Linked DNA regions of Homo sapiens: region 1 is linked to region 2. The links come from fine-mapping of genetic effects on gene expression. Tissue or cell type: lymphoblastoid cells. Region 2 holds a variant in brackets; the other region holds the start of a gene. All regions are shown on one strand. Distances are between the middles of the regions.

What was found. PIP is the estimated chance that this variant, and not a neighbour inherited with it, causes the effect.
Region 1: TCF7L2 starts here. The variant in region 2 is fine-mapped to the expression of TCF7L2 in lymphoblastoid cells (TwinsUK, PIP 0.95).

The regions. Positions count from the first base shown.
Region 1 is chr10:112,946,107-112,953,287 of GRCh38, reverse strand. It overlaps TCF7L2 (transcription factor 7 like 2), which reads right to left and starts at 3,041. Exons shown (of 15, transcript NM_001367943.1): 1 at 2,343-3,041; 2 at 2,015-2,081; 3 at 1,681-1,805. The coding sequence starts at 2,531. LOC124902502 (a long non-coding RNA gene) reads left to right here and starts at 946. Exons shown (of 2, transcript XR_007062291.1): 1 at 946-1,510; 2 at 2,281-2,659.
Region 2 is chr10:112,920,285-112,927,465 of GRCh38, reverse strand. LINC02935 (long intergenic non-protein coding RNA 2935) reads right to left here. Exons shown (of 3, transcript XR_001747706.2): 3 at 1-337. Among named protein-coding and RNA genes, the nearest start is that of TCF7L2, 26 kb to the left of the region's middle. The variant G/TG (reference allele first, on the strand shown) is at 3,084.

The DNA of each region.
Region 1 (7,181 bases), 26 kb before region 2:
AGCTTCCCAAGCATGTCTGGGCGCCGGGCAGGGGGGGAATAATTATTTCTCTTCCCTAGCCATAAAAAAAATGACCGGTCTAGCATGCCCTTGCCATTTTGCCAGGGCCCAAAAAAGCAAGTCAAACCTGATAGTTAATATTTTAATGCTTAAAAACACTTGTAGATCTGATCGACTCCCGTCCGGCAAGCCCTCGGCCATTAGCACCGAATCCATGGCTGCTGAACAGTGGGTGCATTATTTCAAATTGCTATCTAGAGTTACCGAAAAAGAAAAAACAAAAGTCGTGTGTGTAAATAAGGGGTAGGGGACCAAACTGGAGAAGGTGTAAAATGACAATACCGGGAAGCCGGGCACAAATGCGTCTTGCGTCCAGGGATTCGTAATCCAGGCTTCTTAGAAGAGGGAGGGAGGGATGAGGAGGAGGGGGTTCAGGGTGAGGGCAGGGGGCACAGGCCGGTGGGGGAGGGGATGAGCCGTATTAACAAATGTCAGGGTTGGGCGCGGGACCGACCCTGCAGGAAGCGCCCCCCGAGCCCGGCACCCCGCGCTGCCCTGGGGCCCCCAAAGTTGGGTGGCCGGCGATCGGCGGCCCACTCCCTTGAAGGAGAGGCGCCCCAGCCTCCCTCGGCCCCCGCACCTCCTTGAGCCCGCACACCCTGGTCTCTGGCCCCCCTGGGGCCCACGACGGGCCTACACGGAAGCTGGCGAGCGCCGACCCCGCCATACATCCCAAGGCGCCAAAATTCCCTAGAAATACACAAGTCCGCTTGGAGGAGTCCATTCCGGCTGCACACAAACCAAGAATCCGGGCCGCAGGGGCCTCCCCGCCCCACTCAGCCCTGCTGCCCTGCGCGGCCCGGGAGAGCCCGCAGCCAGTGCGCCGGGCAGCGGAGCCCGCCACGGCGCCCAGGGCGCTCGCGGCCCTGCGGGTTGCCAAAGAAAAGGACGCCTCAGAGCCCCCAAGTTTGCGGTGGGACCAATCTGGGAAGTGTGACCTTCCAGGGGAAGGGGGAAGGAGGGCCGAGAGCCAGCAATCTCCACTAGAAAGCTAAATACATAGTCGCCCAAAAGAGAAAGCCAAGGAGCCTCTCCAGGGCCCCGGGCTCTGCGCGCTAGCCAGTTCTCAAGTCCAATGCCTGGAGGAAACCCACTCTCTACCCCGCGCATCGGGCGCAGCACAGTCAGTCACTCGTGGCCCGCAGCGGCAGCCAAGGGGTTAACCGGGGAAAGCCCAAGACGCCACAGAAGAGGGAAGGAAGAGAAGGAGAGAGAGGGAGAGAGAGCAAAGGAAGAGCCACAGAGTCATCTTCCCAGGGTGAAGAAACAAACACCACCACCAAAGGGGGAGGGGGAACCAGAACGCAAAGGAAAGTTCTTCGGATTCCCCCCCCTCCCCACCAACAAAGCCCTGCTTGGACAGAGAGGTCTCCCCAACATCACGAGGCAGCAAACTGAAAGCAAGAACGTGGCGAAGTGCAAACAAATCCAGTCCACAAAAGGCAGAAAAGTTTGGAGAGTTTCGGGCCTCCTGGGCCACGAGCGGGGGAGGGGAGGGAGGGAGGGGAGGAGGCGGGGAGGGGGAGGCGGGGAGGGGGCAGGGCAGGGGCCGCATGCGGGGCCCGGCGGGCGGCGCGGGCGGGCGGGCAGCGGGCGGGGGCCGGGCGCGGAGGCACTTACGGTTCGGGCGGTGGGCGAGAGCGATCCGTTGGGGAGGTAGGGGCTCGTCAGGTCGGGGATCATGATGAAGGGGTAGCCGGGATACGGTGGCCCCTTAAAGAGCCCTCCATCTTGCCTCTTGGCCGCTAACATGGCGGGGCGGCGAGGGGACAGCGGCGGCCGCGCGGAGCGGGAGAGAGTGAGGAGAAACTTTTTAGAAAGTGCCCCGAGGGGCCGGGCGCCCCGACCGGGCCGGCGCAGGGCCAGGCCGAGCCGGGCGCGGGGCCGGGGCGCGCGGGGCGGCCGGCCCGGGGGGCGGCTCCGGGCGGCTGCGGGGCGCGCGGGGCGTACTCACCTTCTTCCAAACTTTCCCGGGATTTGTCTCGGAAACTTTCGGAGCGAGGCGGAGGCCGTCTTTCCGCCTTCCCAGAGGGGTGGAGGTGGGGAGGGCGAGGGGCAAACGCCACGCAGAAGGGGGAGAAGGGGGAGAAAAAGAATCGGCGAGGTCGAGGGGGGGGTAGAAAAAAACAGGGTTACAAGTTTTTGCAATGGTGGCACCGTACGCACACGCCGCCCGCCGGGCCCCGCCGCCGCCCCCAGCCCCGATTTCTCCCCTTTCAGCAACATTTGCCAAGCCCAGGAAACAGATAAAAAACCCCACCAGCCCGAGGGGCTTTTCCTACCTCGGAATCGGAGGAGCTGTTTTGATTCGTTTCTGATTCATTGACTAGAGACGATTTGACATCAGCTAAATCCCTCTCTGCCGAGGAGTTTTCGGAGCTCTTCTCCTCCTGTTCGCCCTCGTCTTTGAAGGAAATCAGTTCGTCGTTGGCGCCTAGGTCATCCCCTCCACCGCCGTTCAGCTGCGGCATTTTTTTTTCACCCACCAGCAGCAATTTTGGAAGAAAAATGAAGGAGGAAGAAAAGCCAAAAAAAATCACCCCCAAAAAGTTTTGCCCCCCCAAAAAATATTGCAAGAAAAAGACGAGTCCAAGGTGAACTTTTTTCTGCTTGGGGGTCTTTTTCTCCTGGGGAGGGGAAAAGAGGGAGGAGGGGAGGGGAAGGGGGGGGAGATCTTCTGCACGCGTGAGTTTGGGTTTCTTTTTTCTCTCGTTCCCAAGGATCCGATCAATGTGCAAAAAAATAATAAATAAAAAAGGGGGGTAAAAAAAAAAAAAACACCAACAACAACAAGAAGTCAGATATAAAGAGCAAAGGGGGGGGGAAGCCGAAGATACAGGAGGTGCTCGTGCCGCTCGGATTTGAGTGAGTTGAAGTTAGACTGAGAGCTTTTCAGTTCAAAGGCGGCGCTGATTGACAGATAGAAAAAGGGGGATCGAAATCCGGAGGAACGGAGTAGTCTGGGAGCGGAGATTATTGACAGGGCGAGAGGAACACACTGCCTTAATGAGATGCCGGAGGGCGGGGCCGGCCCAGTGACGTGTGCATAAATAAACAGCCGGGGTGGGCGGGGCGGGGGCGGCTAACAATGATCCTTTCGGGCGCCGGGAGAGGGAGGAGGGAAAGAAGGAGGAAGAGAGGGGCGGGGAAGCCGGGGGGAGACGGAGGGAGGAGTGTGCAGGGGGAGCGGCCTGCGCGGAGTGTGTGCGAGCCCGGGATTCTGGGCGAGGGTGCAGGGACTTGCTCCGGGAGGGGGCGGTTTCAGAAAGACAATGCGGGGTGGGAGAGGAGGAGAAGGGGGTGGCGACCAAGTCAGGAATCCGAGCCGAGGAAGGCGGAAGGAAAGCCCACTTGGGGGGCGGGGATGGGGAGAGGCCCAAAACAGTGCACTTTAGAAATATTAGAAATAAGTCTTAAGGGAGGGGGAAAAGGAAGGGTAGTATTTGAGAAAGTGGTGGCTGGGGGAGGGGGTGGGGGGGTGCTTGGTGGTTAATTCAGCAGTGAAATCAGCCACCCTTAGACGGGATGCGACAAAAGTGGTCAAAAGGAAAGATCAACCCTCCACTTTCAGAGAGCTTGGGGAAGTGAAGGGGCTGGTCAAAGTTCCTGGTCATCTACAATGAAAGAAACTATTAACCCATGAGGCCTCCCTCCTCCCTTTTTTGTTTATTAGTAGTGAATCATTTCATGAAATGTTAAGTCCCACTAGGATGGATATGCCAAAACGACTTTTTATGCAAAAAACAAATGCTAAATGTCAGAAACATTAAAAGTATCCTTAAGGAAAAATATATGATTCTTTTAAATGTAGAGTGGTGTTTTGCTTTTTTTTTTTTTTTTTTAACTGACGTTGGAGGTAGTAGGAAATGAGCTAGAGTCAAAGTCCTTTTTGACTTAGGAGGTGAAAAGTTTGGGCGTTAACACCGTCAGGGAAAATAAAACTGAAAGTTCACCAACCCCTGGGATCAGTTGGGCTACAGTGTTTCTCGAAGGGGGTCTGAAATGAAATCCCCGAAAGACTGACCAAAATAATCAAGATGTAGGTGGCTCTGGCAGGAAATTGCTAACCAAACCGATGCTAGAAGACCTTCGGGAGAAGATGGGAAACCTGGGGCTTGAGGCAGGTATTTGTTGACTTTTAGGTATTAGAGGAGGAGCAGACTGATTTGCTACAAAATGGGGAATGGAATTATGTTAAAGAGGAAAGACCCAGCTCCCAAAACACAATGTTCCTGGGTGATAGAGCAAGAAAATTCATTTTTGCAAATACCCAGTAAGAAGTAGACTGGACACTACAACATGAAAAAGAGAAAAAAGAAAAAAATAAATCAGTAGGATTTAGCAAATTGCCTCTTAGGAGTAGTATTAGTCTAGAGTCCAGGATGTACTGTTGTCCCACCCTTCCCTGAAAAAGCTCACCTGCACTTCAGCTGGCCCATCAGCACCGAGGTTTCCAAAAGAAAGCAAATTTGCCATGTAATATTTAGAGAGTTTGGGGTTTCAGCAAAACTGTTTTATAGGCTAAAGTCTCAGAAAGACTACTAAAAATAATGATACCGAGATTGACAAGGCCAACGAATTCCCCTGCACTGGAAAAAAATCACAACCACATTTGCACACTAAAGAATAAGATGCAGGCAAAATAAAAATGGGTTGGGGGGGAGGCAGAGGAGAATCACTGTAACTCCCAACTTTGATATTAATCAGAATATCAGAAGTAGAGTGAGAAGGAGCCTGAAAAGAAGTAAAACAAATGTGTACATTTAATCAGACAGGATTGCATAGGATACAAAGCACAGGGCTAATTAGTCTCAGCAGGTAGGACTAACCTTCAGACTTCATAAATAAATAAGGCAGGTGCAGTGTCTAAGAGGGAGAGTGGAGACAGAAAGGGGATTATTTCAAGACACCAAGTGAAAACATGAAGAATGAAATGCTTCACTGTTAAATCCATGTACAAATGGACTTAACAGTTTCCTTTTTTAGGTCTTTTACTTGGTTGCCTTTAGATTTACACATTTAGCGAAATGACCATAGCTTTATACACTTGCTAATTGTCACCTGTATACTTGATGTGCCTAAGTCTGTCTATATGCAGCGTAGACTTTACTAAGGCTCATTTTAGGGACTTAGTTACTTAAACTGGAACACATTTATAGGAACTCAATTTTATGGCAATTTCTTTGTCCTGTGTGGTAGTTTTTTGTTTTTTATTTTTTTAATCAAACCCTGGTCTGAATTAAGTTGGATAATGAGGTCTTCTATGTTCTTTATAGTACTACCTGTATAATAAAATCTCAGGAATATACTGAATTGAAATTTTAAAGAATGTACTTACTGATTTTACTATACTGGCCTGCATTTTTATCATATGTAAATACTAAGGGCTTTGTTCCCATGATTAGTAACTTTATCCATTTTGGCATATCCTTATTTTTCTCATTCAAAGGGAACTCTTTTGAATCTCTCCTTCCTTAAATCTCTGATTTAATTAAGCAATTAAAAAGTTATTCTGTGATAGTGCATGTCCCACATTTAATTTCGTTGCCTGGTGCTGTACAAAGGCTTGAGTAGACCAGCAAGATCTCAGAGGGGCCAGATCCCTGATGCTCTGCAAGTCCCTCAGGTGATGCCTGAATTGAGGAGCGGGGGGGAATGGCAGAATTGGCACTGCAGTAGCCAGGCAGCAAGGTATTGAAAAATACCTTGAATAGCCGGGCGCAGTGGCTCATGCCTGTAATCCCAGCACTTTGGGAGGCCAAGGCGGGCGGATCACGAGGTCAGGAGATCGAGACCATCCTGGCTAACACGGTGAAACACCGTCTCTACTAAAAATACAAAAAATTAACCAGGCGTGGTGGCGGGTGCCTGTAGTCCCAGCTACTCGGAAGGCTGAGGCAGGAGAATGGCGTGAACCCGGGAGGCGGAGCTTGCAGTGAGCCGTGATGGCGCCACTGCACTCCAGCCTGGCCAACAGAGCGAGACTCCGTCTCAAAAAAAAAAAAAAAAAGAAAAGAAAAAAAAAGAAAAATACCTTGAATACTATTTGAAAAAAAAGGTAGGCTGGCCCACAATGTGAATGTGTAATTTATAGATTTGGTGTGAAATTTTAAACACAGTTGACTTGGGTCCAAGTGCTGAGGCAACTTCTCTGTGGATACTGATGACTCCTGGTTTATAGGACCAAGCGTTCTGCCCAAATGGCAGAGATTTGAAAAACACAGGAAACCAGACCAGTTCTGACTTTAGCCTGAGCCAGGGGATTTTGCCACCATGGGCTCTGCATGTTGGGAAATGGGTGGGAGGGGGGAGAAGCTGTGCCCTCATCCCTTGGAATCCAGTTAGGTCTCTGCATATTTTGGGAGGAAGGCAGGGAGAAGCTGGGCCCTCACCCCTTGGAGTCCATTCCTGGCGCCAGTCCAGGTCCTGAACTGTAAGTAGCTGTCCCTAGGCCTCTCTGACTTTGACCTCGCCCTCTTCATCCACTGCCCTTCTGCTGCTTCTCTTCTGTTTTCTCCTCTCCTTCAGCCCTCCCTTGATTAAATCCTTCTCTTTGGATACATGCTGATACCTTAAAACTTAAGTGAGTAGTGTTACCTCTTCCAGAGGTGCTTCCTTGTTTATCCCTATCAATGAGCATGAAAAGGAGGTTTCTGTTTACACAAATCACCTTTTAAGTGTTGGTTCCCCACGTGGGAGATATGGTGAAGTGTTAGGTGCCCATTGAAATACAGGAATGTGCCTGACAGGGGACTGCAGAAATAGGCCTGCCACAGGCTGTGTCACCCACGGCCCCTTCGTCTTGTCTCACCTGGTGGATGAGGTGGTTGGAATGGGCTTTTTTAAGTTGCCTGTTAATATTTAAAAGTCCGTGATTCCATCGTTTCACCACACGCCCCAGTTATGGCTCAGAGATTCACGCACACCAGCAAAGAAGACAAACCATATTGAAAGCTTGGCTCTGGAATTTGAGAAAAACAAGGCTAGTCTGTCAGATTTACCCGAAGTGGGGAATACATGTTGACAACCATATTCAGCTCCCCCAGTCACTCGGCAAGATTCTGCTAAGTTACCCTTGACAGTGATATGTACATGTGTGGGTGTGTGTATTTGTGTTCCTG
Region 2 (7,181 bases):
GCATCACTTTGTGATACTCCATAGCTCTTCCTGCAACATGAGGCCACACTCACCCATGGAGAGATGAAGGTCTGTGTCCCCTTGAATCCAGTGGGCCTACTGCAGATGTGATGCCATGTGACTTCTGAGGCTAAATCTAAAAATGTTCTATCTCGTCTTCTTGGGACCCAGGACCATGCTGTGAGGCACCCATGGAGCCACGTGGAAAAGTCCCAGCTGGCAAGGGCCAATTGCCCTCCAGACACAAGAGTGAAAGGGCCTTCAGATGACTCCAGACCCAGCCTCTGAGCCACTGCAGCAGATGCCAAGTGGAGTGAGCGCTGCCTGGATTTCAGATCTGTGAGCAAAATAAATATCATATCATCCTTTCAAGCCACTCAGTACTGACGTGGTTTGCTCTGGTGGCTGTAGATAACAGTATGTCTGGGGAACTCTGAGAAGGCCAGTGGAAAAGGGCACAAGTACCTCTGGGACCTGGCAATGGAAAGGGAGCAAGAGCTGGATCCAGAACTTGCTACAAGCCCAGTGACTCTAGAAAAGGCAATCTCTCCAGGCAAACAAAGATGTGGGGCCTATGCTTGGTTACTGGAGTGAGGACTGGATTTCAGCCCTCATTCATCTCTCAGCCAAATGTTCTTGTGCAGGGCACACCTACACAATCATACTTAGAGGCCCTGCTAGGCCACACAAAGTCTCAGAGGCTGGGTTAGGGATTTGGGTCTTTATTCTAGGAGCAATGTGGGAGCAGGTAATCGGGCCAGTGAAGTGATTCTTACCACTTTAGTTCAGAGTCTCCCAAAAGACTCAGAAAGCTGCTGTCCATAGATTTTAGGGTCCATTTCCAAGGGAGAGAATGGGGCCAAAAAAGTCAGGCTTCTGATTTTTTTTTTTTTTTTTTTTTGAGACGGAGTCTCACTCTGTCACCCAGGCTGGAGTGCAGTGGCACGATCTCAGCTCACTGCAAGCTCCACCTCCTGGGTTCACGCCATTCTCCTGCCTCAGCCTCCCGAGTAGCTGGGACTACAGGCGCGTGCCACCATGCCCGGCTAATTTTTTTAGTATTTTTAGTAGAGACGGGGTTTCACTGTGTTAGCCAGGATAGTCTCGATATCCTGATCTTGTGATCCACCTGCCTCAGCCTCCCAAAGTGCTGGGATGACATATATATATATATATATATACGTATATATACATATATATATACACATATATATACATATATACATATATACACACATATATATACATATATACATATATACATATATATACATATGTACATATATACATATATACATATATATACATATATACATATATATACATATATACATATATATACATATACATATATATACATATACATATATATACATATATACATATATATACATATACATATATACATATATATACATATATATATACACATATATATATACACATACATATATACATATATATATATATATATATATATTTTTTTTTTTTTTTTGAGACAGAGTCTTGCTGTGTCGCCCAGGCTGGAATACAGTGGTGTGGTCTTGGCTCACTGCAGCCTCTGCCTCCTGGGCTCAAGATATCCTCCCACCTCAGCCGGCTGAGTAGCTGGGACTACAGGCATGCACCATCATGCCTGGCTAATTTTTCTTTTTTCTTTTTTGGTGATGGAGTCTCACTCTGTTTCCCAGACTGGAGTGCAGTGCTGCGATCTCAGCTCACTGCAACCTCCACCTCCTGGGTTCGAGTGATTCTCCTGCCTCAGTTTCCCAAGTACCTGGGATTACAGGTGCACACCACCATGGCTGGCTAATTTTTGTATTTTTAGTAGAGACAGGGTTTCACTATGTTGGCCAGGGTGGTCTCGAACTCCTGACCTCAAGTGATCCACCCTCCTCAGCCTCCCAAAATGCTGGGGTTACAGGAAAGAGCCACCATGATCAGTCTTTTCTTTTTCTTTTTTTTTTTTTTTTTTTGTATTTTTGTAGAGACAGGGTTTTGCCATGTTGCCCAGGCTTGTCTGAAACTTCTGGGCTCAAGCAATCTGCTTGCCTCAGCCTTAATTTTTTTTTTTTCTTTGAGATGGAGTCTTGCTCTGTCACCCAGACTGGAGTGCAGTGGTGCAATCTCGGCTCACTGCAACCTCTGCCTCCCGGGTTCAAGATATTCTCCTGTCTCAGCCTCCTGAGTAGCTGGGATTACAGGTGCGTGCCACCATGCCTGGCTAATTTTAGTATTTTTAGTAGAGACAGGGTTTTGCTATGTTGGCCAGGCTGGTCTGGAACTCCTGACCTCAGGTGATCCACCCGCCTCAGCCTCCCAAAGTGCTAGGATTATAGGCGTGAGCCACCGCGCCCGGCCCCTAATTTTTTAAAATTATTTTTCATTTTTCAAAGATAGGGTCTTGCTTTGCTATCCAGGCTGGAGTGCAGTGGCACAATCATAGGTTACTGCAGCCTCAAACTCCTGGGCTCGAGTGATCCTCTTCCCTCAGCCTCCTGACTAGCTAGGACTACAGGTGTGTGCCACCACCCTCCAGCTAATTTAAAAAAATTTTTTTAGAGATGGGGGTCTTACCATATTGCCCAGGCTGGTCTGGAACTCCTGGCCTCAGGTGATTCTCAAGTGATCTGCCTCAGCCTCCCAAAGTGCTGGCACTATAGGCATGAGCCACTGTACCTGGCCAGGCTTGCTCATTCTTCAACATTTCTCTTGTCTCAAGGTGGAGATAATTTCTCCTACTTATAGGCTCAACTCTACCTACATACTAATCTCAGTTCTGTCCTAGCCCCCAGAATAGCTAAAACATGGCTAAAAGTAAAGATCAGCCTAGCATTTGGTCCCTTTACCTTTTTTTTTAAGTTTTATTTTCAATTGATACACACACACACACACACACACACACACATATGAAGTACAATGTGATGTTTTGATACACATATACATTGTGGAATGAGCAAATCAGGCTAATTAGCATATCTATCAACTCAAATATTTATCATTTCTTTGTGGTGAGAACATTTAAAATCCTCTCTGTTAGCTATTTTGAAATACACCATGCATTTTTTTTTTTTTTTTTTTTT[G/TG]AGATGGAGTCTCACTCTGTCAACCAGGCTGGAGTGCAGTGGCACAATCTCGGCTGACTCTAGCCTCCACCTCCTGGGTTCAAGCGATTCTCCTGCCTCAGCGCTCCTGAGTAGATGGGACTACAGGCATGCACCACCATGCCTGGCTAATTTTTTTTGTAGTTGTAGTAGAGATGGGGTTTCACCATGTTGGCCGGGCTGGTCTCGAACTCCTCACCTCAAGTGATCTGCTGTCTCGGTCTCCCAAAGTGCTAGGATTACAGGTGTGAGCCATCTTGCCTGGCCTACAGTGCATTATTAGTAGCTATAGTCACGATCCAGTATATAGAACACCAGATCTTATCCCTCCTGCTTAACTGAAGCTTTGTACCTGTTGACCAGCATCTTCTCTTTCTCCATTCACCCCCGCCGCAGCCTCTGGTAACCACCATTCTGCTCTCTATTTCTGTGAGTTTGACTTTTTTAGATTCCGCATATAATTGAGATCCATAAGTGGTATTTGTCATTCTGTGCCTGGCTTATTTCATTTAACATAGTGTCCTGTAGGTTCATCCATGTTTCTACAAATGACAGAATTTCCAGGTTTTTTTTAAAGCTGAATAGTATTTCACTGAGTTTATATACCACATTTGATTAACATGGCAGGGGAGATATCTCTTCAGCATAATGATTTTAATTCCTTTGGGTATATACCCCAAAGTGGGATTGCTGGGTCAAATGGTAGTTCAGTTTTTTAGTGTTTTTTGTTTTTGTTTTTTGGTTTGTTTTTGTTTTTGTTTTGAGACAGATTCTTGCTCTGTTGCCCAGGTCAGAGTGCAGTGGCACGATCTCAGCTTACTGCAACTTCCTCCTCCCTAGTTCAAGCAGTTCTCCTGCCTTGGCCTCCCAAGAAGCTGAGGTTACAGGCGTGCGCCAGCACGCCTGGCTATTTTTTTTGAATTTTCAGTAGAGTTGGGGTTTGGCCATGTTGGCCAGGCTGGTCTCAAACTCCTGACCTAAAGTGATCTGCCTGCCTCGGCCTCCCAAAGTGCTGGAATTACAGGCATGAGCTACCGTGCCCGGCAGTGGCTTTTTAGTTTTTTTGAGTTATCTCCGTACTATTTCCAAAATGGCTGTACCTTTGCCTTCTCAAGCCCTCATTCTGGTGGCTTGGCTTTGACTTAGTGTCCCAGATACTTTGGATTTAGATTTCTATTCTTATCTTTGCACCTTCTTTCCCTTATTCTCTATTCTCTATCACCGATCTCCAAGACAATGACTCCTAATGCCCACCAAGACCATGTCCAAGCTCAGTCCCCCTACACATGGTGAAGCCATGTCCGGGATGAACGGTGTGATGAGTAAGCAATGGTGGGGATTGTGGGAGGCACTGTGGGCTGTCTACTCAATGGCAATTCTCTCCTATCTTCACGGTAATAGAATCCTGACTTTGTTCCCCTTCCCCAAGTGATCACAACCTTTTAGGAAGGTTGGACTCCTCCCTGGCCCTAGGGTTGAAATCTGGATGGATCTAAGCCAGTCATGATGGTCTCATTCTTCTTGACAAATGAATGGTTTGGATGTGGACCCATGTGTTGCAAGGGGAGGTTTGCTGGGGAGCCTTTTAGAACATTTTCATTGCTCATGAAAAGGAACACCAAAGCCCCACCCTGGCACTCACATAGATTTCTTAAGGGATGTTACTATGTTCATGTGGCTCTCAGAACTGCAGCGGCCAGCTTAGGCCTAGGTGGGAATCTCACCTAAGAGGATGAGTAAACAGACTGAGGATAACAAAATGAAAAGAGGGAAATAACCTGATTCCTTGAAGATATGATTGGGCAGCTAAATTACCAACCATGGAATCAGTCTAACTCCAATCTTATTTTTCTTATTTCTTTATTTTTTTTCAGACAGGGTCTTGCTCTGTTGCTCCAGCTGGAGTGCAGTGGCATGATCATAGCTCACTGCAGCCTCGATTTCCTGGGCTCAAGCTATCCTCCCACCCCACCCTCCCAAAGCACTGGGATTACAGGTGTGTGAGCCACAGTCCAGCCTTAACTCCCACCTTCTTGTCATATGAGATAATATATCATCTTAGAGTGCAGTGGCACGATCTTGGCTCACTGCAACCTCTGCCTCCCAGGTTTGAGCAATTCTCCTGCCTCACCCTCCCGGGTAGCTGGGATTACAGGCGCGCGTCACCATGCACAGCTTATTTTGTATTTTTAGTAGAGATGGGGTTTCCCCATGTTGGCCAGGCTGGTCTCAAACTCCTGACCTCAGGTGATCCGCCCCCTTTGACCTCCCAAAGTGCTGGGGTTACAGGTGTGAGCCACCACGCCTGGCCTGTTTAAGCCATCTTATGAATATTTTCTATTACTTATGATTAAGACTTCCTAACTGATACAGGACCTTCTGGCGTGAAATCCCAGACCATAAACTTCATTTCTTCTCCTTGCGGGTATAAGATGAGGAAAAGATGCTAACATTGTGAGCACCTACTGCATGCCAGACATTGTGCTAAACGCTGTCTACTCAATCGTCACAAGACAGTGTAGCAATTTTAAAACATGGCTGCAAATTCTTTAATGCTTTTTCCATCAAGAGGTAGGGCTTATGTCCCTTCTGCTTGGATCCCGTTGGTCCTGTGTATATATCCACCAACAGAGTCCAGTGAGAGGCTCGCTCATAAAAAGCTGTGCCTAGCTGGGCACAGTGGCTCACGCCTGTAAGCCCCACACTTTGGGAGGCTGAGGCAGGTGGATCACCTGAGGTTGGGAGTTCGAGACCAGCCTGGTCAACATGGTGAAACTCCGTCTCTATTAAAAAATACAAAAATTAGCCGGGCGTGGTGGTAAGCATCTGTAATTCCAACTACTCAGGAGGCTGAGGCAGAAGAATCACTTGAACCTGGGAGGTGGAGGTTGCAGTGAGCCGAGATCATGCCATTACACTCCAGCCTGGGTGACACAACAAGACTCTGTCTCAAAACAAACAAACAAACAAAAACAAAACAAAACAAAAAAAACAAAACTGTGCTGCTTTCTCCTTGCTTTCTGGAGTCACATAGGAAGTTCAGCTACCTTAATACCACCATGCCACGTAGTCATGGTGTAGGTGTGCTGATTGACAGTACCAGCTGAGCCCAGCTTGCCAGTCATCCCTACTAAGGCTCCAGACTTGTGAGTGATGCCCTCTTGAACCCTCCAGAGCAGCCTCTCAGCCTGCTGAATACCACTAAGTGACATCCGTTGATACTACATGGAACGGAAGAATCTCCCAGGCGAGCCCTGCCTAGAATTGTGAGATATAGAAATAATGGCTTTGAGCCCAGGAGTTTGAGACCAGCCTGGGCAACAAAGCAATACCCCATCTCAAAAACAAAACAAAACAAAACAAAATAAAATAAAACCATGGCTGTTGTTTTAAGTCATTAAATTTTGAGATACATAGTTACACAGCAATACATAACCAGAATTAGTAGGTTTTATTATCTCTACTTTGCAGCTAGGAAAGACTAAACCAAAGCTCAGAGAGGCCAGTAAGCAGAGGCAAAATTCAATCTCAGTTTGCCTAACTCCAAAGCCTAGACTTTTCTCACTACACTGTAATGCTTGGGCCCTTCCTTGACACCCAAGCACCATCTCTGGCCTGCTCCCTGCTTTGACCTCAGGCTCACAGTCTGGCTTCATTCTCTAGACCTGTGGTCTCTGCATTGACACTTTTTTCTATACTATTGGACTTTCCAACAGACACCATCCACTTAGTCTTTCTCCACCTGCCTAATCAGTGGCCTGGCCATTGCCACCTGCCCTACAGGTACTCCTGTGTTCTGCTCTGTTATCTCCTCAGCTCAGTCTCTGCCAAAGAGAAGTGCTATGCTCTTCATTTAAACCACACACATGGCCAGATGCAGTGGCCTGTAATCCCAGCAATTTGGGAGGCCAAGGCAGGAGGATCACTTGAGCCCAGGAGTTCAAAACCAGCCTGGGCAACATAGAGAGATGCTGTCTCTGCAAAAAATAATAATAATTTTAAAATATTAGCTGGGTGTATGCCTGAAGTCCTAACTACTCAAGAGGCTGAGGTGGGAGGATTGCTTGAGCCTGGGAGGTC